Homo sapiens: one gene and its partners. The protein of the gene in region 2 purifies or fractionates together with the protein of the main gene of each other region. This does not show direct contact. Each region holds a gene or a part of one and is shown on either strand. Other genes may lie near its edges. The genes, in order: SENP8, RAB4B, DAB2IP, NECAP1, ARHGAP39 and RNF170.

What was found.
Region 1: the proteins of RAB4B (region 2) and SENP8 fractionate together in Homo sapiens (co-fractionation; one large-scale study listed by BioGRID). This does not show direct contact.
Region 3: the proteins of RAB4B (region 2) and DAB2IP purify together in Homo sapiens (affinity purification with mass spectrometry; one large-scale study listed by BioGRID and IntAct). This does not show direct contact.
Region 4: the proteins of RAB4B (region 2) and NECAP1 purify together in Homo sapiens (affinity purification with mass spectrometry; one large-scale study listed by BioGRID and IntAct). This does not show direct contact.
Region 5: the proteins of RAB4B (region 2) and ARHGAP39 purify together in Homo sapiens (affinity purification with mass spectrometry; one large-scale study listed by BioGRID and IntAct). This does not show direct contact.
Region 6: the proteins of RAB4B (region 2) and RNF170 purify together in Homo sapiens (affinity purification with mass spectrometry; one large-scale study listed by BioGRID and IntAct). This does not show direct contact.

The regions. Positions count from the first base shown.
Region 1 is NC_000015.10:72,138,307-72,142,402, forward strand, and holds part of SENP8 (sentrin-specific protease 8), read left to right. Parts: intron 1-1,005; exon of another isoform or gene 1,006-1,129; intron 1,130-1,270; 5' UTR 1,271-1,317; coding exon 1,318-1,956; 3' UTR 1,957-4,096. UniProt on the Homo sapiens protein: Protease that catalyzes two essential functions in the NEDD8 pathway: processing of full-length NEDD8 to its mature form and deconjugation of NEDD8 from targeted proteins such as cullins or p53.
Region 2 is NC_000019.10:40,787,874-40,791,969, forward strand, and holds part of RAB4B (ras-related protein Rab-4B), read left to right. Parts: intron 1-4,096. UniProt on the Homo sapiens protein: The small GTPases Rab are key regulators of intracellular membrane trafficking, from the formation of transport vesicles to their fusion with membranes.
Region 3 is NC_000009.12:121,780,446-121,783,739, forward strand, and holds part of DAB2IP (disabled homolog 2-interacting protein), read left to right. Parts: intron 1-1,018; coding exon 1,019-1,106; intron 1,107-1,885; coding exon 1,886-2,053; 3' UTR 2,054-3,090; coding exon of another isoform or gene 3,091-3,100; 3' UTR 3,101-3,294. UniProt on the Homo sapiens protein: Functions as a scaffold protein implicated in the regulation of a large spectrum of both general and specialized signaling pathways.
Region 4 is NC_000012.12:8,085,052-8,089,147, reverse strand, and holds part of NECAP1 (adaptin ear-binding coat-associated protein 1), read right to left. Parts: intron 1-4,096. UniProt on the Homo sapiens protein: Involved in endocytosis.
Region 5 is NC_000008.11:144,675,547-144,679,642, forward strand, and holds part of ARHGAP39 (rho GTPase-activating protein 39), read right to left. Parts: intron 1-4,096.
Region 6 is NC_000008.11:42,861,510-42,865,605, forward strand, and holds part of RNF170 (E3 ubiquitin-protein ligase RNF170), read right to left. Parts: intron 3,981-4,096; coding exon 3,907-3,980; intron 3,185-3,906; coding exon of another isoform or gene 3,142-3,184; exon of another isoform or gene 3,104-3,141; intron 347-3,103; coding exon 236-346; intron 1-235. UniProt on the Homo sapiens protein: E3 ubiquitin-protein ligase that plays an essential role in stimulus-induced inositol 1,4,5-trisphosphate receptor type 1 (ITPR1) ubiquitination and degradation via the endoplasmic reticulum-associated degradation (ERAD) pathway.

The DNA of each region.
Region 1 (4,096 bases), on a different chromosome or scaffold from region 2:
AGGAGTGCCAACCCCCGTATGCAGTCAAAATTCTAGGTATAACTTTTTTTTTTTTTTTTTTGAGATGGAGTCTTGCTCTGTTGCCCAGGCTGGAGCGCAATGGCATGATCTCAGCTCACTGCAACCTCCACCTTCCAGGTTCAAGCAGTTCTCCCACCTCAGCCTTTCGAGTAGCTGGGATTACAGGCATGCCCCACCACGCCCGGCTAATTTTTGTATTTTTAGTAGAGATGGGGTTTCACCATGTTGGCCAGGCTGGTCTCAAACTCCTGACCTCAAGTGATCTGCCCACCTTGGCCTCCCAAAGTGCTGGGATTTCAGGCGTGAGCCACAGCACCCAGCCTAGGTGTAGGATTTGACTCCCTAAAAAAATACGCCAGGTGCGGTGGCTCACGCCTGTAATTCCAGCACTTTGGGAGGCTGAGGCGGGCGGATCACAAGGTCAGGAATTCGAGACCAGCCTGGCTGATATGGCGAAACCCTGTCTCTACTAAAAATACAAAAAAAAATTAGCCGGGCATGGTGGCACATGCCTGTAATCCCAGCTACTCAGGAGGTTGAGTCAAAAGAATCGCTTCAACCCAGGAGGCAGAGGTTGCAGTGAGCTGAGATCGTGCCACTGCACTCCAATCTGGGCGACAGAGTGTGACTCCATCTCAAAAAAAAAAAAAAAAAAAAACTTTACTACCAATAACATAGCCAATTAACAATAACATAGCCAATTAATACATGTTTTGTAAATGTATTATATACTGCATAATATATACCTTACCAATAACATAGCCAATTAACACGTTTTGTAAATGTATTATATACATTTACAAATAACCTTACCAATAACATAGCCAATTAACACGTTACCTTACCAATAACATAGCCTTACCAATAACATAGCCAGTTAACACATGTTTTTTAATGTATTATAAACTGCATTCTTACGAAAAAGTAAGCTAGGGGAAAATATTAAGAAAATCATAAAAGAAAATATATTTACTATTCATTAAGTGGAAATGGATCGTCATAAAGGTCTTCATCCTCATCATCATGTTGAGTAGGCTGAAGAGGAGGAGGAAAAGGAGCAATTGGTCTTGCTGTCTCAGGGGTGGCAGAGGCAAAAGAAAATCCATGTGTAAGTAGATCTGCACAGATCAAACCCACCTTGTCCAAGGGTCAACTGTGTATTTTTTTACCACAACCCTATAAAAGTAACTACTATTTTCCAGCCGCATTTTACAGTCAGGTATTTATTGACAATAATATTGTCTTCTAGCTCTTGTTCAGCTTCTGGAATTTCTGAGCAGCCCTCGTCAGTACAAGATGGACCCCGTAGTCTTGAGTTACATGGACAGTCTACTGCGGCAATCAGATGTCTCACTATTGGATCCGCCAAGCTGGCTCAATGACCATATTATTGGGTTTGCGTTTGAGTACTTTGCCAACAGTCAGTTTCATGACTGCTCTGATCACGTCAGTTTCATCAGCCCTGAAGTCACCCAGTTCATCAAGTGCACTAGCAACCCAGCAGAGATTGCCATGTTCCTTGAACCACTGGACCTCCCCAACAAGAGAGTTGTATTTTTAGCCATCAATGATAACTCCAACCAGGCAGCTGGAGGAACCCACTGGAGTTTATTGGTCTACCTCCAAGATAAAAATAGCTTTTTTCATTATGATTCCCATAGCAGGAGCAACTCAGTTCACGCAAAGCAGGTAGCAGAGAAACTGGAGGCTTTCTTAGGCAGAAAAGGAGACAAACTGGCCTTTGTGGAAGAGAAAGCCCCTGCCCAACAAAACAGCTATGACTGTGGGATGTACGTGATATGTAACACTGAGGCCTTGTGTCAGAACTTCTTTAGGCAACAGACAGAATCACTGCTGCAGCTACTCACCCCTGCATACATCACAAAGAAGAGGGGAGAATGGAAAGATCTCATTACCACACTTGCTAAAAAGTAGCTATTGAAGTATATTTGCGACTTTTGAAGGCTCCTCTTTCTGCCCTTCCCCATTTGTTGGATGGCTGCAATCTCAGTGCCTGAGGGAAGATGCCTAGTAGAGGAAAGCTTAATACTCTTTTTCCTGAAAGAATATCATCCTCTGCATTATCCCCATGGAACGTTTCACTTTAACCCTGACTGGGGAGCAATATGTTCTGTGAAAATATCTTGAAATTGTACACCAAAACCTTACAACCAACTTATTTGAACATTTATTACACACAGGGTTTACGTAAGACTTTTCTTATTGGTATATAATTAATTTCCTTTGGTCTCCCTTATCCACATTGGCTTATTCTGGAGGAAAAGCAGTGATCTGTAAAACAAATCAAGAATATATTAAATCTAGAGGAATGCAGAGAAGAAAACTATAAAACAGAACCAAAAACTTGTTGCACAGCCTACATAATTAAGAGATCAACTGGCTGGAAGCAGATCAAGGCCTAACTTCATTCAAGACCTAAATATTATGAGACTCAGTTATTCGGTTTTATGTGACATCTCTTCCATTCACCATGCACAGGCTTTTCCAGCTATCTATATAATGTTTGCAAATATTTGATAAAGATGATGTTACCCTATCTTCCTCCATCTGATTCCTGGAATGCTTGAAGAAAGGGGAAATCTTGAGTAACCTCATTAAAATTAATGTCTGGTGGACCTCTCAGTTTGCTCACTGATTGGGTAGACTTGCTACTCTGGATTAATAACTGCTTTTCTCTGCCTTGTCTATTAGCCATGCACACACTTCCTCCTTATATCCAAAGTTCTTTGGTTCTAAAATTCATAGTTGATACCTTCCCAAGGTTACCTGTTGTTTCAGATAAACATTTGTTCTTCCTGATAGTTATAGGTTTTCCTCTCTGTCCTTAATTCTGGCAGAATTGTTTTTAGTTATGTCATGGTAATTTCAGGATGATTTTTGTATCTGAAACTTAACAGACTTAGAGTTGGTTTGTTTTTTAAATATAAAGGAAGAAAAGTGACCTTTCTCAGCCCTTTTACTTAATTAAAAATGCAGGGAATGTAATTTGTAAAATGTGGAACCAAGAGTAGAACGAAATACTATCCCTCCAGAAGCACTGATGTGTTTCAGTTGTTTCAAATAGTAAACAACCAGATGACATGTTAGGTACACAAATTAATTCTATTCCTAATGAGAATTAGATTGCAAGGCCTATGAGACTTGAAAACCAAAGATGAGCTTCAGCCATGAAACTTATTTCAGCTACCTCCCCAGCCTAACCCTGCCCCCAGCCCTCATGGCCCAAAATAACCTCACCACTCAGTGACCACAGAGAAAGTAACTTGGTTCCTTTTAGCCGAGAAGGGAAAACACAGTAAGGGTAAATAAGTACAGGTTACATAGCAGGCCTGAGTGAGCAGGAGCTGAAACTAAAAGTCAAAGAGAAAGCTATCAAAAAAAGTTTCCATTTCAAGTCGGTACATTTTGGATAAAAACCAGTCCTAATGGAAGATGGGGCTAGGAAAAAGATTAGGAACTGGCAGTCATCCATAGAGGTGAAATACAGAGGGAGGGACAGCAAGAGAAGTGACAAAGGTCACTGATGATAGGCCACAAGTGTAGATAAAGATAAGAAAACAATGTTATTTCAGTGACTGTTGACTTAGGCAGCTAATCTAGACTATTAAAGTCAAATCCTCTCTGGGAAAAGTTATCTTTCTGACAATGCAAAGTATGTTTATTTAAATATCAGAGTATCTTCAATCTGAGAATTAAAGCATATGAAAGCAATCTTTCCTAACTCCCTACGATTCATCTTATAAGTAAATTTATAAGTAAATTTTTAAACTACACTAGTCTTTTAAATATATATAGAAAAATATATATACACACGTATAGACATGTATATGTAATCTATCTACATATATATAAAAAATGCATTTTCCAAATGCATTAGCCTGATTGGACTGTGCCACAGATTAGTGTCCTCCTATGAAATTTTGAGTATGTCATTTGTAAATGTTAGCATTATAAATTGCAGGAGAATTTAAGAATTGACTTGTATTTCACTGGATACTATAGTACCCGGTAAGTTACACACCTGCTTGACCACATACCATTCATGTTACATGAC
Region 2 (4,096 bases):
ATCACTTGAACCCAGGAAGCTGAGGGTGCAGTGAGCCAAGATTCAGCCACTGCATTCCAGCCTGGGCGACAGAGCAAGACTCTGTCTCAAAAAAAAAAAAAAAAAAAAAAAAAAGAGACATCTGCCAGGCCACAGGGAATCCACCTGCAGCCCCAGGCCAGCTTCCTGCCCTAGACCTTGACCCTCCCATTCATAGTTCTCCAGCGATTTATTGAGCGCCTGCTGTGTGCCAGGCCCTGCTCAAGGCACTGGGGATATGGCAGGGAGTACAACAGACTCCCATCCTCATGGTGCTGACATTCTCTTTGGGGGAGACAGGTGATAAACAAGAGATGTAAGTCGACTGGGCGCAGTGGCTCACACCTGTAATCCCAGCACTTTGGCAGGGTGAGATGGGAAGATCACTTTGAGACCAGGCTGGGCAACAAAGCAACCTTATCTCCACAAAAAGTTTTTTAAAATTAGCGAGGCGTGGTGGTGTGCACCTGGAGTCCCAGCTACTTGGGAGGCTGAGGTGGGAGGATGGCTTGAGTCCAGGTGTTCGAGGCTGCAGTGAGCTGTGACCATGCGCCACTGCATTCCAGCCTGGGTGACAGAGCGAGACTCTTAAAAAAAAAAAAAAAAAAAAAAGTAAAGTATGTAGTAGTGAGGGAGGTAAGAACTATGGGGAAAAATAAAACAGGCACAGATGAGTGGATAGGGTGGAGGAGTGTACTTTTTTTTTTTTCTTTGAGATGGGGTATTGCTCTGTTACCCAGGATGGAGTGCTGTGGCGTGATCTCGGCTCACTGAAACCTCCGCCTCCTGGGTTCAAGTGATTCTCCTGCCTCAGCCTCCCGAGTAGCTGAGATTACAGGCGACTACCACCATGCCTGGCTAATTTTTTTTAATTTTTATAGAGACAGGGTTTCTTTTTTTTTTTTTTTTTTTTTTTGAGATGGAGTCTTGCTCTGTTGCCCAGGCTAGAGTGCAGTGGCACGATCTTGGTTCACTGCAACTTCTGCCTCCTGAGTTCAAGTTGCCTCAGCCTCCTGAGTAGCTGGAACTACAGGCGCCCGCCACCACGCCTGGCTAATTTTTATGTATTTAGTAGAGATGGGGTTTTACCATATTGGCCAGGCTGGTCTCGATCTCTTGACCTTGTGATCTGCCCGCCTCGGCCTCTCAAAGTGCCGGGATTACAGTGTGAGCCACCGCACCTGGCCGACACAGGGTTTCATCATGTTGGCCAGGCTGGTATCAAACTCCTGACCTCAAGTGATCCACCCACTCTTGGCCTACTAAAATGTTGAGATTACAGGCGTGAGCCACTGCGCCCGGCCAAGAATGTACTTTTTTTTTTTTCTGAGATGGAGTTTCACTCTTGTTGCCCAGGCTGGAGTGCAATGGCGCGATCTCAGCTCACCGCAACCTCTGCCTCCTAGGTTCAAGCAATTCTCCTGCCTCAGTCTCCTGAGTAGCTGGGATTACAGGCATGTGCCACCACACCCAGCTAATTTTGTATTTTTAGTAGAGACGGGGTTTCTCCGTGTTGGTCAGGCTGGTCTGGAACTCCCGACCTCAGGTGATCTGCCCGCCTCAGCCTCCCAAAGTGCTGGGATTACAGGCGGGAGCCACCACGCCCAGCCTTTTTTTTTTTTTTTTTTTTTGAGACAGAGTCTCACTCTGTCGCCATGCTAGAGTGCAGTGGCACGATCTCGGCTCACTGCAACCTCTGCCTCCTGGGTTCAAGCAATTCTCCTGCCTCAGTCTCCCGAGTAGCTGGGACTATAGGTGCGTGCCACCATGCCCAGCTAATTTTTGTATTTTTAGTAGAGACATTTCACCATGTTGGCCAGGTTGGTCTCGATCTCTTGACCTCGTGATCCGCCCACCTCAGCCTCCCAAAGTGCTGGGATTACAGGCGTCAGCCACCGCACCTGGCCAAGAGTGTACATTTAAACAAGATGAGGAGGGAAGCCTCGCTGAGAAGATGACATTTGAGTGAAGGAAGGGAGATAGGGAGGCCTGTGGGGATCTGGGGCAAGAGCACTGCTGGAGAGCACAGCAACGCTTCTAGCGAGGGGTATGCCTGGTGTCGGTGAGGGTGACCAAAGCAGCCAGTGTGGTCATCATGGAGGACCTGTGTGTGTTTTGTGGGTACAGCATGAGATGGGGTCAGGGGTTGGAGGAAGCAGATCAGTTAGGGCCTGTGGGCCCTGGGGAGGCCTCTGGCTTATACCCTGTGTGGGAGCCATGGGAGGCTTCTGAACAGAGGAAGGACAGGATCAGATTCAGGGGTGCAGAGAGTTCCTCTGGCTGCATAAAGGGAAGGGGCTGTGAGGGACAGAGGAGGTCACCAGGACACCAGAGAGGAAGCTGCTGCAAAGTCCAGGGAAGATGGTGGAGGACAGGACAAGGGGGCGGGAAGAGGAGTGGCTGAGAAGGGAATAGGGTTCATGTCCTCCCTAGACTCTCTGTCTTCCAGTCTTGGCCTCTCTCTTTTTTTTTTTTTTGGTTCCTGTCTTTTTATTTTGAGACAGAGTCTCGCTCTGTCACCCAGGCTGGAGTGCAGTGGCGCGATCTTGGCTTACTGCAAGCTCCGCCTCCTGGGTTCATGCCATTCTCCTGCCTCAGCCTCCTGAGTAGCTGGGACTACAGGCACCCGTCACCATGCCCGGCTAATTTTTTGTATTTTTTTTAGTAGAGATGGGGTTTCACGGTGTTAGCCAGGATGGTCTCGATCTCCTGACCTCGTGATCCTCCTGCCTCGGCCTCCCAAAGTGCTGGGATTACAGGCATGAGCCTTTCCTTTTTTTTTTTTTTTTTTTTTAATTTTAGAGAGAATCTCACTCTGCTCACTCTGTCACCCAGGCTAGAGTGCAGTGGCGCCATCTTGGCTCACTGCGACCTCCGCCTCCCGGGTTCAAGTGAGTCTCCTGCCTCAGCCTCCCAAGTAGCTGGGATTACAGGCATGTACTGCCACAACCAGCTAATTTTTGTATTTTTTTTTTTTTTTTGGAGATGGAGTCTCGCTTTGTTGCCCAGGCTGGAGTGCAGTGGTGCAGTCTCGGCTCACTGCAACCTCCGCCTCCTGGGTTCAGGTGATTCTTCTGCCTCAGCCTCCCGAGTAGCTGGGACTACAGGTGCGTGCCACCACGTCTGGCTAATTTTCTGTATTTTTAGTAGAGATGGGGTTTCACCATGTTAGCCAGGATGGTCTCGATCTCCTGACCTCGTGATCCACCTGCCTCGGCCTCCCAAAGTGCTGGGATGACAGGCGTGAGACATTGCGCCCGGCCAATTTTTGTATTTTTAATACAGACAGGGTTTTGCCATGCTCGTGAGGCTGGTCTTGAACTCCTGACTTCAGGTGATTCACCCGCCTTGGCCTCCCAAAGTGCTGGGATTACAGGCCTGAGCCACTGTGCCCTGCCAATCCTGTCTCCTTTTGATGCAGCCACTGGGTCTTTCTAACACACATATCTGCTCCTGTCGCTCCCTTTTTCAAAACCATCCATGCATCTCAGGGCCCCAGGACACAAATGAACTCCTCAGCCTGGTGTTTGACCCTCTGCAGGGACTGGCCCCTGCCAGCCCAGCCTTACCGGCCTCAGCCACTTGTCGGTCTCCCTACCTCTCAGGCCACTCCAGCCACACTGAAGTTCTTCCCATTCCTCTGGGCCCTTGCTCATGCTGGGCCTCTGCTTGGAACATTCCTACCCTCTTTTCCCTGGCAACCTCCTTCCTCCAGGCAGCACTACTTGTTCCTCCAGGCTTGGTCCAAACTTTTGTTTTTTTTTGAGATAGAGTCTCTGTCACTCAGGCTGGAGTGCAGTGGCGTGATTTCGGCTCACCGCAACCTCCGCTTCCAGGTTCAAGCAATTCTGGTGCCCCAGCCTCCTGAGTAGCTGGGACTATGGGCATGGGCCACCAACGCCTGGCAAAGTTTTTATATTTTTAGTAGAGACAGGGTTTCACCACGTTGGCCAGCTGCTCACAAACTCCTGGCCTCAAGTGATCCACCCACCTCAGCATCCAAAGTGCTGGAATTATAGGCATGAGCCACTGCACCCGGCCCCAAACTTCTTGACAGGCTTTCAAAACCCTGCAGGAT
Region 3 (3,294 bases), on a different chromosome or scaffold from region 2:
TTCTGTGAGTGGGCTAAGTGCTTGCCCAGTGTGCGGTGGCTGCTCTAGGCTGGAGGAATCAAGAGGGCAGGGATGGAGAGAAGCCTTGGGAGTGGAGGGCTCATCTAAGAGTGTGTGGAGCAAGGAGAAGGGAGGCTGAGGCCAAAGCCCTGTGGACCCCCATGTCCAGAGGCAGACAGGACAAGGCATCTAGGAGACAGGCAGACCCAGAGAGTGTGGGGTCTCAAAGCCAAAGGAGAGTGGGAAGGTGGGAGTGCCCAGCAGTGAGAGTGTCTCAGGAACCAGCCAGGTGGGGCCAGGAGGGCTCCCAGGCAGGGAGCAGCAGGACGGAGCCGGCCTCCTGCCCACTGAGCTTCCGCGGGTGGTATGTCCCCCAGCTACTGCTCATTGTTCTGCCTGCACACCTGTCCTTCAGATGTCTCCTACTGATGTGCGACCTCCCAGCCCACCCTCCAGGGAACGTCACTGCTTCCTGCTCTTTGTTCCAGGGACCTGAGCTTTCCACTAGCGCAGCTGCTCCGTGCAGGGTGTAGTTAGTTACTCGTGCCTCCTGCCTTGTGAACTCCTTGAGGGAAAGGACTAGAGTTCATTCATCTTGGCACCTCGCGTACAACTTTGTGAAGATGGCGGGGGCAGGGTGGAAAAAGTTCTAGAGCCTTTCAGGGCCTTCGTCTTTCCACCACCTGCCTAGCTCTAGGGGTTTGAAGATCTAATGCCCATTTCCACCCATCTTGGCTCCTGGAAGAACATCGGGAAAGGGGCAGCCCGGGGGCCTCTGGGGCTTTAGGAGCAGCGAGTGTGGGATGTGGAGGTGAGGAAGGAGGCCCAGCAGTGTCAGTTGCTGGGAGTCGGCTGGAGGGCCTCTGCCCCAGGCAAGTATGGGAGGCAAGTCTCTGACCCAAGGAGGGGCTCTCCTAGTGTGTCCCTGCTGTGTGCGGGGGTGATGGGCTTGTTCTCACACCCTCCCCACCTCTGCTGCCTCCAGGGCCAGTCTGACTGTCTCTGTCTCTGGCTATAGGTTGATGTCCGTGGAGGAAGAACTGAAGAAGGACCACGCAGAGATGCAAGCGGCTGTGGACTCCAAACAGAAGATCATTGATGCCCAGGTGGGGGCTCCGGCCCTTTGGTCAGCCACAAGAGTTAAAGGGCCTGGGATTAGGAGGGGTGACTAGCCTCTCCATCCTCAGTCATACCTCACTGCAGACACTGAGGGGAATAAGAAACCAGAATCTGCCCTGAGAAGTCAGACCTGTGGTCTTAGTGGGCCACAAGCTCACTAGGACAGGCTGTGAAAGGAGAGAGGCAGCTCCTCCCCTGCCAGGGCTCTTGGCGGGCATTGTCTTTCACCAGGACTGCTGACCAAAGAGTGGAAGCCACCAGGAGGGCAGTGGGGGTAGGAGTGAAGGCAGGCTGGTCAGAGGGAGCAGTGGGGCTCTCGTTCACAACTATGGCATCCGGGCTGCATTGAGGGGAGACGTGAAAGGCTCTGTGGCCCCAGCCTCCTTTACTCAGGGCTGCACCGCTTTCCTTTCACTCACCCAGGAGTAGGCTGGGCCTTGCTCAGGCTGTAAACTGCACAGACCAGGAGCTGTGACCTCTGGTGTGTCATGCACACACATGTGAGCAAGGGTGCCTGCCCTAGGGGCCGCAGGCAGCCCATAGACAGCACTAGAGCTGCTGCATTTGGGCTGATAAGCAGGCAGCGAGGCTGTGTCCATGATGCTGCAGAGGCCTCTGCCTACCTTCTCTTGCCAGCTGCTCACAGCCCGGAGCCTGCCTGCCACCCTCATCTCCAGGCCACCCCCTTCCCCGATGCTTGTCGTAGGTATACACAGCCCTAAGGAGCCTGTCCCATGACCCCCGCTCACATCCCCATTGTCCACAGGAGAAGCGCATTGCCTCGTTGGATGCCGCCAATGCCCGCCTCATGAGTGCCCTGACCCAGCTGAAAGAGAGGTACAGCATGCAAGCCCGTAACGGCATCTCCCCCACCAACCCCACCAAATTGCAGATTACTGAGAACGGCGAGTTCAGAAACAGCAGCAATTGTTAACCTGCCTGAGGAGGGAGGAAGCTACCCAAGGAGAGGGGGACTATGGTGGCCAAGGGCAGGGTCTCGGCCTGGGGAGGCACCCACGGTTGCAGCCCCAGCGCGGGTGTCAGGAGGCCGAGCCTCCCCTCCCTGCCGCTGTCCAGGAGGCGGCCGCAGAGGGAGCCACCAGAGACTGAAGCAGCGTGAGGCGAGGTCACCAGCCGCTCCCTGTGGGGTGCGGGCAGAAGAGACTGCACGCTGGGGAGTGGGGACAGCCTGATGGGGCAGGGGGCCTGCCAAAAATATGTCTGTTGGTTCCTGAATGTGGTGTGTCCTTGTCCTCCTGGATCTGGCCGAGTGCATGTGTCCCCCCACACCTGTGCCAGGGAGGGGGCTTCCTGGAGGGGGGATTCAAGGGCTAGGGGCCTACACCTGTGGCTTCCCCTCGCCTCCTTGGGGGGCCCGGGACTCCCTGGCAGCCAGGCCCTGTCATGTGGGACCTGGCACTTGGCAGATCAGTTGGCAGGCAGGAAGATAGGAGGACACAGAGCAGGAGGTCAGTGTCCCCTGCCTGTCTCCATCCGAAGCACCTGCCACTGCATGCAGCCTGTTGGGACCTTCCTGGCTGTGAGGAACTGAGGATTCCTACCCACCCACCCCCTCTGAACCTGTCCCCAGAGCACCACCTGCTACCTTCTTCCCTGCCTTAGTTGTATTGCCAGATAGACCCAGTGAGGGCCATGGCTTTTTCTTGTGAGCTCTTGTCCCTGTGGGGAGGACCCACAGCTTCCCACACCTCCCACACAGGCCCAGGCTGATGCTCTAGGGCTCCCAGAAGCCAGAGATCTGGGCGGATCTGGCCAGATGGCTCTGAGCACTGTATCTGCCTTCTCCTGGGGCCCAGCACACCCAGGGCACAGTGGTCCTGTAGGGAGTGCCACCTGGTGCTCACCCTGAAAGAAAAGGTGATCCTTCCTCTGAGTGATGGTTTAAAAAAAGATTCTAACGCCTGCAGGCCCTGAGAAGGTGGATAACTGTGATTTTTTTTCCTTTCACAGTATGCATTAGAAACAAAAGCCCGCTTGCTCGCTTGCTGGAACACAGGGGCCTTTTAAGTTGAGCGTGCGCACTGCATGGGAAATAGCGGCCCTGGAGGATGTTAGACTTGCTCCCTCTCCAAGACAGCAGCAGCCTGCACCTGCCCCGTGTGTGTGGCCGGCCTCCTCCTCACCCTTCCCGGCCCCCGGCCAAGGACCCAGGCG
Region 4 (4,096 bases), on a different chromosome or scaffold from region 2:
AAAACAAAGATTCCAACCCTCATGAGGCTTACATCCTAACAGAAGATAGAAAATAAAAAAGAAACATAATAAACAGCATAATTAGTATCTTAGAAAGTGGTGAGTTCTAAGGTAAAAAGAAAATGTAGAGGCAAATTAGGAAGATTAAGAAGACAGTGGGAGAATGAACAAGTTGTAGCATTCAAGAGGGTGGTTGGGGTAGGTCTCATTAAGGTGAAATGTGAGCTAGAATGTGAAGCAAGAGAGTTATCCATACAGATGTCTGGGGGAAAAGCATTCTAGACATAAGGAACAGCTAGCCCAAAGGTGCTACGGTGGGGGCATGCCTGGCATGTTTGAGAGACAACAAGGAAGCACTGTGGTTAGAACAGAGGAAGAGACAAGGTGGGAGAGGTAACAGACGGCCAGATCACGCAGGGCCTTGTGGGTCATAGTAACAACTTCAGCTTTCACTCTGAGTGAAAAAAGAGCTATTACAAATTTTAAGCAGAGGTGTGACATGATCTCCCTTATATTCTAAAAAGATTACTACATCTGCTGTCTGGAGAAAAGCTGTTGGGATAAGAGGACTGAAGCAGGGGGATTAGCTAAGAGACTACTGCAGTAATCTAGAAAAGTCACAATGGTAGCAGAAGTGGCTATATTCTGGATATATTTAGGGTAAAAGTAGCAGGATTTTCTAATGGATTAGATATGGGATAGAAGAGAAGGATATATTTAGGGTAAAAGCAGCAGGATTTTCTAATGGATTAGATAGGGGATAGAAGCCAAGGACAACTCCAAGGTGTTTAGCCTGAGCAAAGAGTTGCCAATTATTGAGATGAGAAGGAACACATCTAGGAAGAAGGATCAGGGATTCAGTTTTAAATATGCTGAGTTTGAGATGTCTAGTAGATTTTCAAGAGATGTAGAGTAGGCAGTAAAATATATGAGACGAGTTCAAGAAAGACATCTGGGCTGGAGATACAAACGGCCATGAAAACATCAGAAATTTATAAAACGTGTTATAATCAACTTGAACAACAACTAAGATTATTTATGATGAATTTTACAAAACATTGTATTTGTGATTTGTTTTGCCAGGAGTATGGAAAACAGATTAGCAAAGTAAAAGTTATTAATAATTCATCTTCTAAGAAACCAAAGACTAATACTTAAAGACTAAAAAAGCAACCACAAGGTATATTTGAACAAGAATGAGTTTAACAAGATGAGAGGTAAAAAGCTGAAAGGAGGAAAATGAAAGTGAAAATTAGCACAGGTTTTGAACAGGATCTGTAAAATAAGTCCTTCCCATTCTCTTCCCTCTTGATTCCCTGCCCTCAAAGACCCTCAAGTACCTAAATCTGATCCAGATTAGAGAGCTCTAAAGTTCCTCATCTATTATATTAATGAGTTATTACTTATTATAATCATGCCACCAAGAGCTCATGTAAATGGGCTATTAAAAATATTAGGAACAGCCAGGCACCGTGGCTCACGCCTATAACCAGCACTTTGGGAGGCCAAGGCAGGAGGACTGCCTGAGCCTAAGAATTTGAGGTTGCAGTGAGCTATGATCGCCCCACTGCACTCCAGCCTGAGCAACAGGGTGAGACCCTGTCTCTAAAAAAAAAAAAAAAAAATTAGGAACAAGTCTATTAAATGTGTTTTTCTTGGATGAGTTCCTTATTTCTCTTGTGTATCTAGTGTCCGATACTTAACAAATTCTGTAAGTAAATGGATATTCATGGCAGCAGATTCCCTCAGCCTTGAGCCTTAGTTCCTTTCCTACTCCAAGACCTAATCTAAAGAACTCTTGATTTTGCTTGTCCTCTGACAATACTTTTAACTTACCTTACAAATTTTCATTTACCTTAGTAATAAAACTTTATATATATATAAATAAAAAACCACTATGATGATTCACAGTAAGATTCCAAATGTACATCTTATTATGTCCTTATAGTAGATATGTGAAATAGGCATGAAAAGCCTGTCATACCTCTCTTTCTCTCTAAATGATGGAAAGGATAACACAGTAAGTAATAATGCCTAACTTTAAAGTCCATTATTCTTTCATTACACTGAAACGCATTATAGAGGTTAATATTGATTTAGCTAAGGGAAGAGGGTAGTGAAGAATTTTTTTTTAAAAAAAAATAGTTTTATAGGTTGGAAAACTGTTTTCTAACCATTTATTTATTTGTGTGTGTGTGTGTGTGTGTGTGTGTGTGTGTAATAGAGTCTCACTCTTCCACCCAGGCTGGAGTGCAATGGCGCGATCTTGGCTAACTGCAACCTCGGGTTCAAGCAATTCTCTTGCCTCAGCCTCCTGAGTAGCTGAGATTACAGGCACAGGCCACCATGCCCAGCTAATTTCTTTTGTATTTTTAGTAAAGACGGGGTTCCACCAAGTTGGCCAGGCTGGTCTCAAACTCCTGACTTCAGGAAATCCGCCCGCCTTGGCCTCCCCAAGTGCTGGGATTACAGGAGTGAGCCACCGCACCCAGATTGTTTTCTAAGCATTTGTAAGTTTCCTTTTTGTTTGTTTTGAGACGCAGTCCTGCTCTGTCGCCTAGGCTGGAGAGCAGTGGCATGATCTCAGCTCATTGCAACCTCCGCCTCCCGGGTTCAAACAATTCTACTGCCTCAGCCTCCCAGGTAGCTGGGACTACAGGTGTGCGCCACCACGGCTGGCTAAGTTTTTTGTATTTTTGTAGAGACGGGGTTTCACCATGTTGGCCAGGCTGGTCTGGAACTCCTGACCTTAAGTGATCCGTGCGCCTCGGCCTCCCAAAGTCCTGGGATTACAGATATGAGCCACCGCACTCAGCCTGATAAGTTTCTTGTCAACCCAAATTTTCCTTCCCATAGTCTAGAAGTCTGGTCAGTGAAAGTCTGGGAACGAACAGCTTACACTAGGTGAATTAAAATCAATTATTCTCTCTAATCTTACCAGTCACTCAAAGGAAAAATTCCTCCTGCTTTCTAAAAAGCCCAGTTTGTCCTTTAATGTCAGCCTAGAGAATAAATCCTGCTTATAATATAAAGTGGGTTCTGGTAAATAAGAAAGATTATGCAAACAAAAAGAAAACCAGCATTTATCAAGCATTTATTATGTGCCAGGCATTATGCCCATTCTCGTGAAAATTAAGTGAAAGGGCCAGGCGCAGTGGCTCATGCCTGTAATCCCAGCACTTTGGGAGGTTGAGGTGGGTGGATTGCCTGAGGCCAGGAGTTCAAGACCAGCCTGGCCAACATGGTGAAACCCCATCTCTACTAAAAATACAAAAAATTAGCCAAGCATGGCAGTGCACATCTGTAATCTCAACTACTCAGGAGGCTGAGGCACGAGAATCAGTTGAATCTGGGAGGCACAGATTGCAGTGAGCCATGATCACACCATTGTACGCCAGCCTGGGTGACAGAGCGAGACTCTGTCTCAACAACAAAAAAAAAAAAAAAAAAAAAAAAAAAAAGAAGATTAAGTGAGAGGATCCTACAAGGTAAGTATTGTTATAGTCATTTTTACAAATGAAGAAACTAACATTCAAAAGTGGTGATTTGCCAAAGGTAACCCAGCAAATAAATATCGTTATTCAAACTTAATTCCGCTCTCTTCATGTGCTGTACTAAAAAAGTGATTGATGATAAGGTGCCTCTTGGAGGATAAAAAATGCCAGTAGACATGGAAAACACAGAAGGATAACAGGAAAAAGAGGAAAATTAAGAAACTGCTTTAATGGCTCAGTGCAGTTAACTGATGTAAGTATAAAGGTTGTGGAAAACTAAGAAGTGAAGATAGAGAAGATGGGTGAGAGGGGAGGTGTTTTAAAAAGCTTGAAGTAGGCCGGGTGCGGTGGCTCACGCCTGTAATCCCAGCACTTTGGGAGGCCAAGGCAGGCGGATCACGAGGTCAAGAGTTTGAGACCAGCCTGGCCAACACAGTGAAACCCCGTCTCTACTAAATATACAAAAATTAGCTGGGCATAGTGGCACGTGCCTGTAGTCCCAGCTACTTGGGAGGCTGAGGCAGGAAAATCACTTGAACCGGGGAGGCGGAGGTTGTGGCGAGCTGAGATTGCGCCAGCGCACTCCAGCCTGGGCAACACAG
Region 5 (4,096 bases), on a different chromosome or scaffold from region 2:
CTTCCGGTGGGTTTGTGGTCTCGCTGGCCTCAGGAGTGAAGCTGCAGACCTTTGTGGTTAGTGTTACAGCTCTTAAAGGCAGTGCATCTGGAGTTGTTCGTTCCTGCCGGTGGGTTCGTGGTCTTCCTGGCTTCAGGAGTGAAACTGCAGACCTTCGTGGTTAGTGTTACAGCTCTTAAAGACGGTGCGTCTGGAGTTGTTCATTCCTTCCGGTGGGTTCGTGGTCTCGCTGGCCTCAGGAGTGAAGCTGCAGACCTTCGTGGTTAGTATTACAGTTCTTAAAGGCAGTGCATCTGGAGTTGTTCGTTCCCTCCGGTGGGTTCGTGGTCTTCCTGGCTTCAGGAGTGAAGCTGCAGACCTTCGCGGTGAGTGTTACGGTTCATGAAGATAGCATGTCCAGAGTTGTTCCTTCCTCCCGTCAGGAGTTGTTCTTCCCTCCCAGTGGGTTCATGGTCTCGCTGGCTTCAGGAGTGAAGCTGCAGACCTTCTCGGTGAGTGTCACAGCTCATAAAGGCGGCGCGGACCCAAAGAGTGAGCACCAGCAAGATTTAGTGCGAAGAGCAAAAGAACAAAGCTTCCACAGCATGGAAGGGGACCCCAGCGTGTTGCCGCTGCTGGCTTGGGTGGCCTGCTTTTATTCCCTTATCTGGCTCCACCCACCTCCCACCGATTGGTCCATTTTACACAGAGCTGATTGGTCCGTTTTGACAGGGTGCTGATTAGTATGTTTACAAACCTTCAGCTAAACACAGAGTGCTGATTGGTGCATTTACAATACTTTAGCTAGACACAAAAGTTCTCCAAGTCCCCACTAGATTAGCTAGACACAGAGCACTGATTGGTGCGTTTACAAACCTTGAGCTAGACACGGGTGCTGCTGACTGGTGCGTTTACAAACCTTGAGCTAGACACACGTGCTGCTGACTGGTGCGTTTACAAACCTTGAGCTAGACACACAGTGCTGATTGGTGCGTTTACAAACCTTTAGCTAGACACAGACTGCTGATTGGTGTGTTTACAAACCTTTAGCTAGACAGAAAAGTTCTCCAAGTCCCCACCCGACCCAGAAGCCCAGCCGGCTTCACCTCTCAATGGTGGGACTTCACGGCACCTAGCCCGGGCACTCCGGCAGCCCAGAGGAAGCTCGTCCCAGATCAAGCCCAGCAGGCGCCAGCCACAGCACCGGCTCCCGCCCACGCCTCTCCCTCCACACCTCTCTGCGAGCAGAGGGAGCCGGCTCTGGCCTCGGCCAGCCCCAGAGAGAGGCCCCCACAGCGCAGCAGCTGGCTGAAGGGCTCCTCCAGCGTGGCCAGAGCGGACGCCGAGGAGGCGCCGAGAGCAAGCGAGGGCTGCCAGCACGTTGTCACCTCTCACCTCCACGCCCAGCTAATTTTTGTACTTTTAGTATAGACAGGGTTTCACCATGTTGGTCAGGATGGTCTTGATCTCTTGACCTCATGATCCGCCCGCCTGGGCCTCCCAAAGTGCTGGGATTAGAGGCCTGAGCCACCGTGCCTGGCCTGCATATTTTTAAGGTTCACACACGTTATAACATGAATCAGTAACTCACTTCCTTTTATTGCCAAATAATATTCCATTGCAGGAATGGACCACATTGTGTTTATCCGTTCATCCGCTGATGGACATTTAGGTTGTCTCCACTTTCTGGCTGTTGTGAACACTCATGGACAAGCTTCTGCGTGGACGTGTATATTTCCAGTCACTCAACCAAAAGAACACACAAAAGGTGAACCAGTTTCCAACTGAGACATTCATTTAATTTGACCTACTATATTATTTAAAATATAGAGAGATGAGATAATTAGGAGAAATAAATGACCAAAGGAAGTGCAGAAATAAAGACACTAAGAGACAAGAGCAAACCCTGATGTGACGGAATAAACGGTGATTGAAGAAAGAGATGCTATTTCTAGGATGGGTCCTACAGGTACATTTGCAAAACACTGTGCCTATAGCCTTGCTGGTAACAGCATGAAAATTCCACAGCACCTCCATACAGCCAAATACAGTGCGGCCATGGAAAGAATGTACCGGAAAATGTACTGATATGGAAAGATCTCTCAAACATAGTTGAAAAAGGCAAGGTTCAGAAACTTTTTAAAAAGAAAAGGGTAAGGAAAAAAACAGAATACATACACTTGTTTGCTTGCAAAGTTACAAAGTATCTCTAGAAGGATACACAAGAAGCTGGTCCAGCAAAGCTTCCAGGGGAACCAGGTTCCAGGGTAGAGACTAGGAGGCTTCACTGAGCTCCCTTTGTACTTTTGAACCACGTATATTATCTGCTCAAAAATGTTAAACAAAATTGAAACTTTCTAGGAAGCAAAAATAGAGAATCTGTGAGAATCAAGACATTTACACTTAGGAAAGCAAGTTACAAGAGAGGCCCAGGAAGATGGAAGCAGCCGACGTGGGAAATGTGTCAACGAGTCCCTCCCCCTGCTGCGCCAGCCATTCTCTGAGGGCAACTCCCCATCCTAAACCCAATCATCTTTACTGAAGCCAGTGCTCAAAGAAAATGTTGCAATCTGCAGCAAGACATTCAGAACACAAACAGCCAAGTGCCATGGCTCATGTCTACAATCCTGGCACTTTCGGAGGCCGAGGTGGGAGGATCACTTGAGCCCAGGAGATGGAGGCTGCACTGAGCTGTGATCATACCACTGCACTCCAGCCTGGACAACCCACCCTGACTCTCTCTCTAAAAAAAAAAAAAGAAAATACAAATGTATCTGCTGCCCTCAAGGACTTCCCAGTCTAGAGGGGAGAAAATATTATGTGATTGTGCAGTGACCAAAAGCACCACCTAGAGCACTACGAGAGGGGGTGGAGCACCTGAGGACAAGGCAGCGATCCAGGAGGCGCTCCCACAGACATTACCTGAGTCTGAGTCAAAGGGCTGAAGGAACCAGTGAGCTTGGCTTAGTTTTGGAAGGAGGGACGCCAAGAAAGACTTGGCCCATGACCACATGGCAGTTTTTCTGGAGAGCAGAGTAGGTTGGGGTCACGCAGCGCTGTGGAGCATGGTCCAGGAGGCACTGGGGAGCCAGGGAGGAGAGCCAGGCAGCAGAGTCACTCGCCTAGACGCTCTGAGCCTGGCGCCATCCTGTGCACTGTAGGATTTCAACAGCATCCCCAGCCTCCACAAATCCTTGGCCATCCCCTCCTAGTTGGGACAACCAAAAATGTCTCCAAATATTGCCAAATGTGGCAGGAGGGCGGGGAGTGGTGTCAGAATCACCCCTGGGGAGATCACTGCCCTGTTTATATCATCTGAGCAGCTATGTGGCAGAGACAGGGGAGTGGCTCAAGGCTGGGGCAGGAGAGCCCCAGGAGGTACAGCGTAGTGCAGGAGGGACATGGTGCAGGTCCCACTCAGGCAGGGGTTCTGATCACTGTTCAGGGGGAACTGGCAAGAGGACCTGGAGCCGTACCACATGGCAGCTGAGAGGGGGACCCAGCACGCCAAAATTCTAGGTGGTGACCAAGCAGGTGAAGGTCCCAAAGCCCCAAAGGGTTGAGGCCAGAAGTGAATGTGGGTGCTGAGTCTGAGCCGCCTCAGGGGCTCTCGCGCATGGTGGCCGGCTCCAGCGTCCAGCATCTGCGGCTGAGGGGAGACATCCAGCTGCACCTTCAGTCATGGTGAGATGGCCCAGACAGCAGGTACGGGCTCCTCAGCTCTGCTCAGCACAGCGTCCGAGCAGGGGCTCACCTTCCCCATAGGAGGCTGTACGTCACACCCTGCTTTGGTCCGTGGACCCTGAGATGCCAGTCCAGGATGGTGCCGGAAAAGACACTAGGTTTCTGCCACTCTCTTGCCATAAAAACAGCATGTGCCACATAAGGCCTGGTCCTGGATCTGGAAATGAAGACTCTTGGAAAAGAGTCACAAGCAAACGAAACGCGGGCAGGAATCAGCCTCTGCTGCTGTGAGCGCTGCAGTGCTGGGGTTGCTACTGCAACTCGCTCTGGAGAAAGCTGTCCAGTAAACTCCTGGATTTGGATTTCTTCCTTCACCAACCCATCCTACAGAACATTGCCAATTAAATCTCCCTAAACCATTAATCAGGACATC
Region 6 (4,096 bases), on a different chromosome or scaffold from region 2:
TTTTGGTGTTTTTTCTAGAGATGGGGTTTCATCATGTTTCCAAGGCTGGTCTCAAACTCCTGGGCTCAAGTGATCCACCTGCCTTGGCCTCCCAAAGTGCTAGGATTATAGGCGTTAGCTACTGTGCCTGGCCAAGATTTCTCATAGTCAAAGAATACTTGTTGGTAAACCTCACTTTACAAAAGAGAAGAAATGTGTCTTCCTCTAACTTTGAACATGCTTTAGCATTACTTACAGATCTGGGTTGCCCTGAGAATCTCCGGTTATAATCATTAATATCCTGATGCAATCTCAGAACATCCTGAGACTGATCATCTTCACCAAATACTGTTAGGAGTAAGGTTACCTGTATATTACAGAAAAAAAAATTATTTCAACTTTCTGCATCATTATGTTTTTTTCATTTTGTGTTATTATTCAATAGAATGATAAAGGCTTCTATATTTATATTTCACTCATTTTTAAATAAAGGCAACCTGGGGGAGGGGAGTAAGTAACTGCTTTGCAATAAAATCCAATGCAACATAGAATTTGAACTCCTATAAAATAGACACCATATCCAACTACTGGCCTAATATTTTCCTGTCCACACCAGGGGTAAATTCCTTAGTTCTCTATTTGGGCTAACAGATATTTGAAGATAAAAGAAGGATGAGGAAACATTCAGGAGGAAAGTGACATAAAATATATAACTGTCACTTTAAGACAGAAAAATTATGGTTTTCTTTTTCAGTATTAAAATAATGATTGGTTATTCTTACTGGTATTTGAAAGATCTTTGAATGCTACCAACCATAATATAAAGATTATGTTATTGCAGGGACCAGCTCTCAAACACCAATTCCTACTATAATAAAAAAAAGAAATTTTTGATATTGTCATATAACATAATACATTTAACCCTGCTTCCTTCATGGTTGTGGTAACAAGGATGTACAAATGTCCCAGGACCATACTGGGGTAATCTGACGGTGACAGTACCTTGAAAAATAAATACACTTTAGGACGTAGCACCCTTATAGAAAATGGTCACTAATGATTGTATGATGACATAAAAACGGGAAGGAGTGGTGGCCGATTTAGTTTTAAATCATTTAGTTGTTGTTTTGTCCTTCCTCAGTTCAGCTGTAAAACCAAGGCTTCCCACTGTTTAGATGCTTTCCAAACAGCTAAAAGAAGGCGTGACTAAGCACAGAAGGTGGTGAGAACAGCAGGTGCAGCCATCACTTCCTTCACAAATTTGTTAATAAAAATGCATTCTTTCAATACACATTAATGGAACACCTATGGCGGGCCAGGCACTCTGCTTAGTGCTAGGTATGCCAGAAAAATGAAGTCAAAAGCCTGCTCCAGGGTGACTACAACACCCACAAGGAAAGGGGAGGAAGACCTGGCCGACAGCCTTACATGGTCCTGGGGCAGGTGCAAGAATGCTGCTGTGAGAGCGAGGATCTCTTCTGCCTGGGGTGGTCAGAAAGCCTGATACTGAGCCAAACCTGGAAATGGTGGTAGGACTGTGGCTGGTGTGCACGCATTCAAGGGGAGAAGTGGTGAATGTGTTCCAGTCAGAGGCGGCAGCCTGTGTATTGCTATTTCCATGACCATTTACTGAAGGGGCTACTGAAAACAGGAGGTAGAACAAGCATTTGCCATCTGTCTTGCCTCCAGGATGAATTACTCTTATCTTAGGGAACCAAGACCTATTATATTAAGACAACTTTATCTCGACCTTCTGAGCCTCTAGTCAATTTATGGATGGTACACAGGATACCACTGGCTACTGTACACATGTCCTATGAAAAGCCATGGGCAGAACCAAGAAGAGGGAGGGCCTGGAACTATTTTTTTAATGTAAGACCTACTCCCTAGTTTGGATGTTGCTGACCGAGAGCAAAAGATGCCAAGAAGTAGTACGGGCAAATAAGCTTCAATTTAAAAAAAAAATTTTTTTTTGAGACAGTCTCGCTCTGTCTCCAGGCTGGAATGCAGTGACACCACCTCGGCTCACTGCAACCTCCACCTCCCAGGTTCAAGTGATTTTTCTGCCTCAGCCTCCCAAGTAGCTGGGACTACAGGTGTGCGCCACCATGCGCAGCTAATTTTTGTATATTTAGTACAGACTGGGTTTCACCATGTTGGCCAAGATGGTCTTGATCTCTTGACCTTGTGATCTGCCCGCCTCAGCCTCCCAAAGTGCTAGGATTACAGGCGTGAGCCATCACGCCCGGCCATAAGCTTCAATGTTGACTGCCTTGTGTCACGCATCAAATCAGCCAGAGAGGCATATAGAAACATCAGTTTTCCTCCTGACCATGTGGCCACAAGTAAAATATGAAAGAGGCAGAATTTGGGAATGTATAAGCAAGAATGGTAAGAAAATGACTTGGACCTCCCTCTTTGCACCAAAATAAGAGGGCAGTTGAGGGGAAACAGACAGCTACAATAAAGGCTGAAGGAGAGAGAGAGAGAGAGTGTGTGTGTGTGTGTGTGTGTGTGTGTGTGTGAACATTCCACCCACGGGTAAGTGGAGGAATACTTTTTTTTTTTTTAGTGTGTGTGAACATTCCACCCATGGGTAAGTGGAGGAATACTTTTTTTTTTAGTGATGTAATCTCGTTCTATTGCCCAAGCTGGAGTGCAGTCCCATGATCATAGCTCATTGCAGCCTCAACCTCCTGAGCTCAAGCAATCCCCCCACCTCAGCCTCCCAAGTAGCTGGGACTACAGGTATACACCACCACACCTGGCTAATTTCATTTTTTAAATTTTTTTGTAGAGATGGAATCTCATTTTGTTGCCCAAGCTGGTATCGAACTCCCAGCTTCAAGTGATCCTCCTGCCTTGGCCTCCCAAAGTGCTGGGATTACAGGCATGAGCTACTGCGCCCACCCTGTATTTTTATTTTAAATGAAAAATAAATATAAAGGAAATTATGAAAAACAGTGTACAACTGACACAATGTCCTATTTTGTCATACTTAAAAACTGAGAATATTGGTTTCTCAGAATTGTTCAGTATTTCATTTCTCCAGTTTATCAAAGAAATGGAGAGAATTTGGCATGTCTCATCTGCAGTGACATTTCAGTCTCACGTTCATGCTTACTTACTGCCTCCCTCCTCAGGTGGCTTCGATGCTAACTGTCATGGTCTAAGCTGTTCTGGACAATGCAATGTGGCCATGTCTCTAAAAGGAATGAAACATTAAAAAAAAAAATCATTATATACCATTTAAAGCTATCTGGGTCCTCACTGGAAAAAGACAGATTAAATATACATTGAGAAGGAAAAAAATTTTTTTTCAAAACAAGTATATATGCATATATAGAGGATATATGCTCAAGCCTGATTGTCTTTCACTACAACTGTAGGATTTCAAATAGGATTCCCTTTTGTAGTGGTATCTCAGTGACAGTTTTAAAAAAATAATCGTGGGCCGGGTACAGTTTAAAAAAAAAAAAAATCGTGGGCTGGGCGTGGTATCTCATGCCTGTAATCCCAGCACCTTTGGAGGCTGAGGCAGGAGGATTGCTTGCGTTCAGGAGTTTCAGACCAGCCTGGGCAATGCAGGGAGACCTCATCTTTACTAAAAATAAAAAAATTAGCCAGGCATGGTGGCACATGCCTATAGTCCCAGCTACTCAGGAGGCTAAGGTGGAAGGATTGCTTGGGCCCAGGAGGTCGAGGCTGCAGGAAGCTACGATCATGCCACTGCACTGCAAGACCTTTTTTCAAAAAAAATAAAAAAAAATAAAAATAATAATAATAATATATGGTGACATCAAAGAAGATTTGGATAAATGAAGTTCTGCTAAAAAGACAATAATAATTCCAAATGTAGATACAAAAACTATAAAAATGTACAAAATAAACTAGCATAAATGATACTTTCTGCACACAAAACATTACCGTTTGTCTACAGATTGGACAACTGATTGCCCCAAGCCATGAACCATATCGCCAGTAAGCAATAATGCAGGCACCTAATAGACAAAACAAAACAAACACATAACCCATTAATATTGATGTTTTAAAGTCCACATATCCTCAGAAAGATTCAACTATTTGAAATATTTTAACAGTACCACGTTATTTAAAA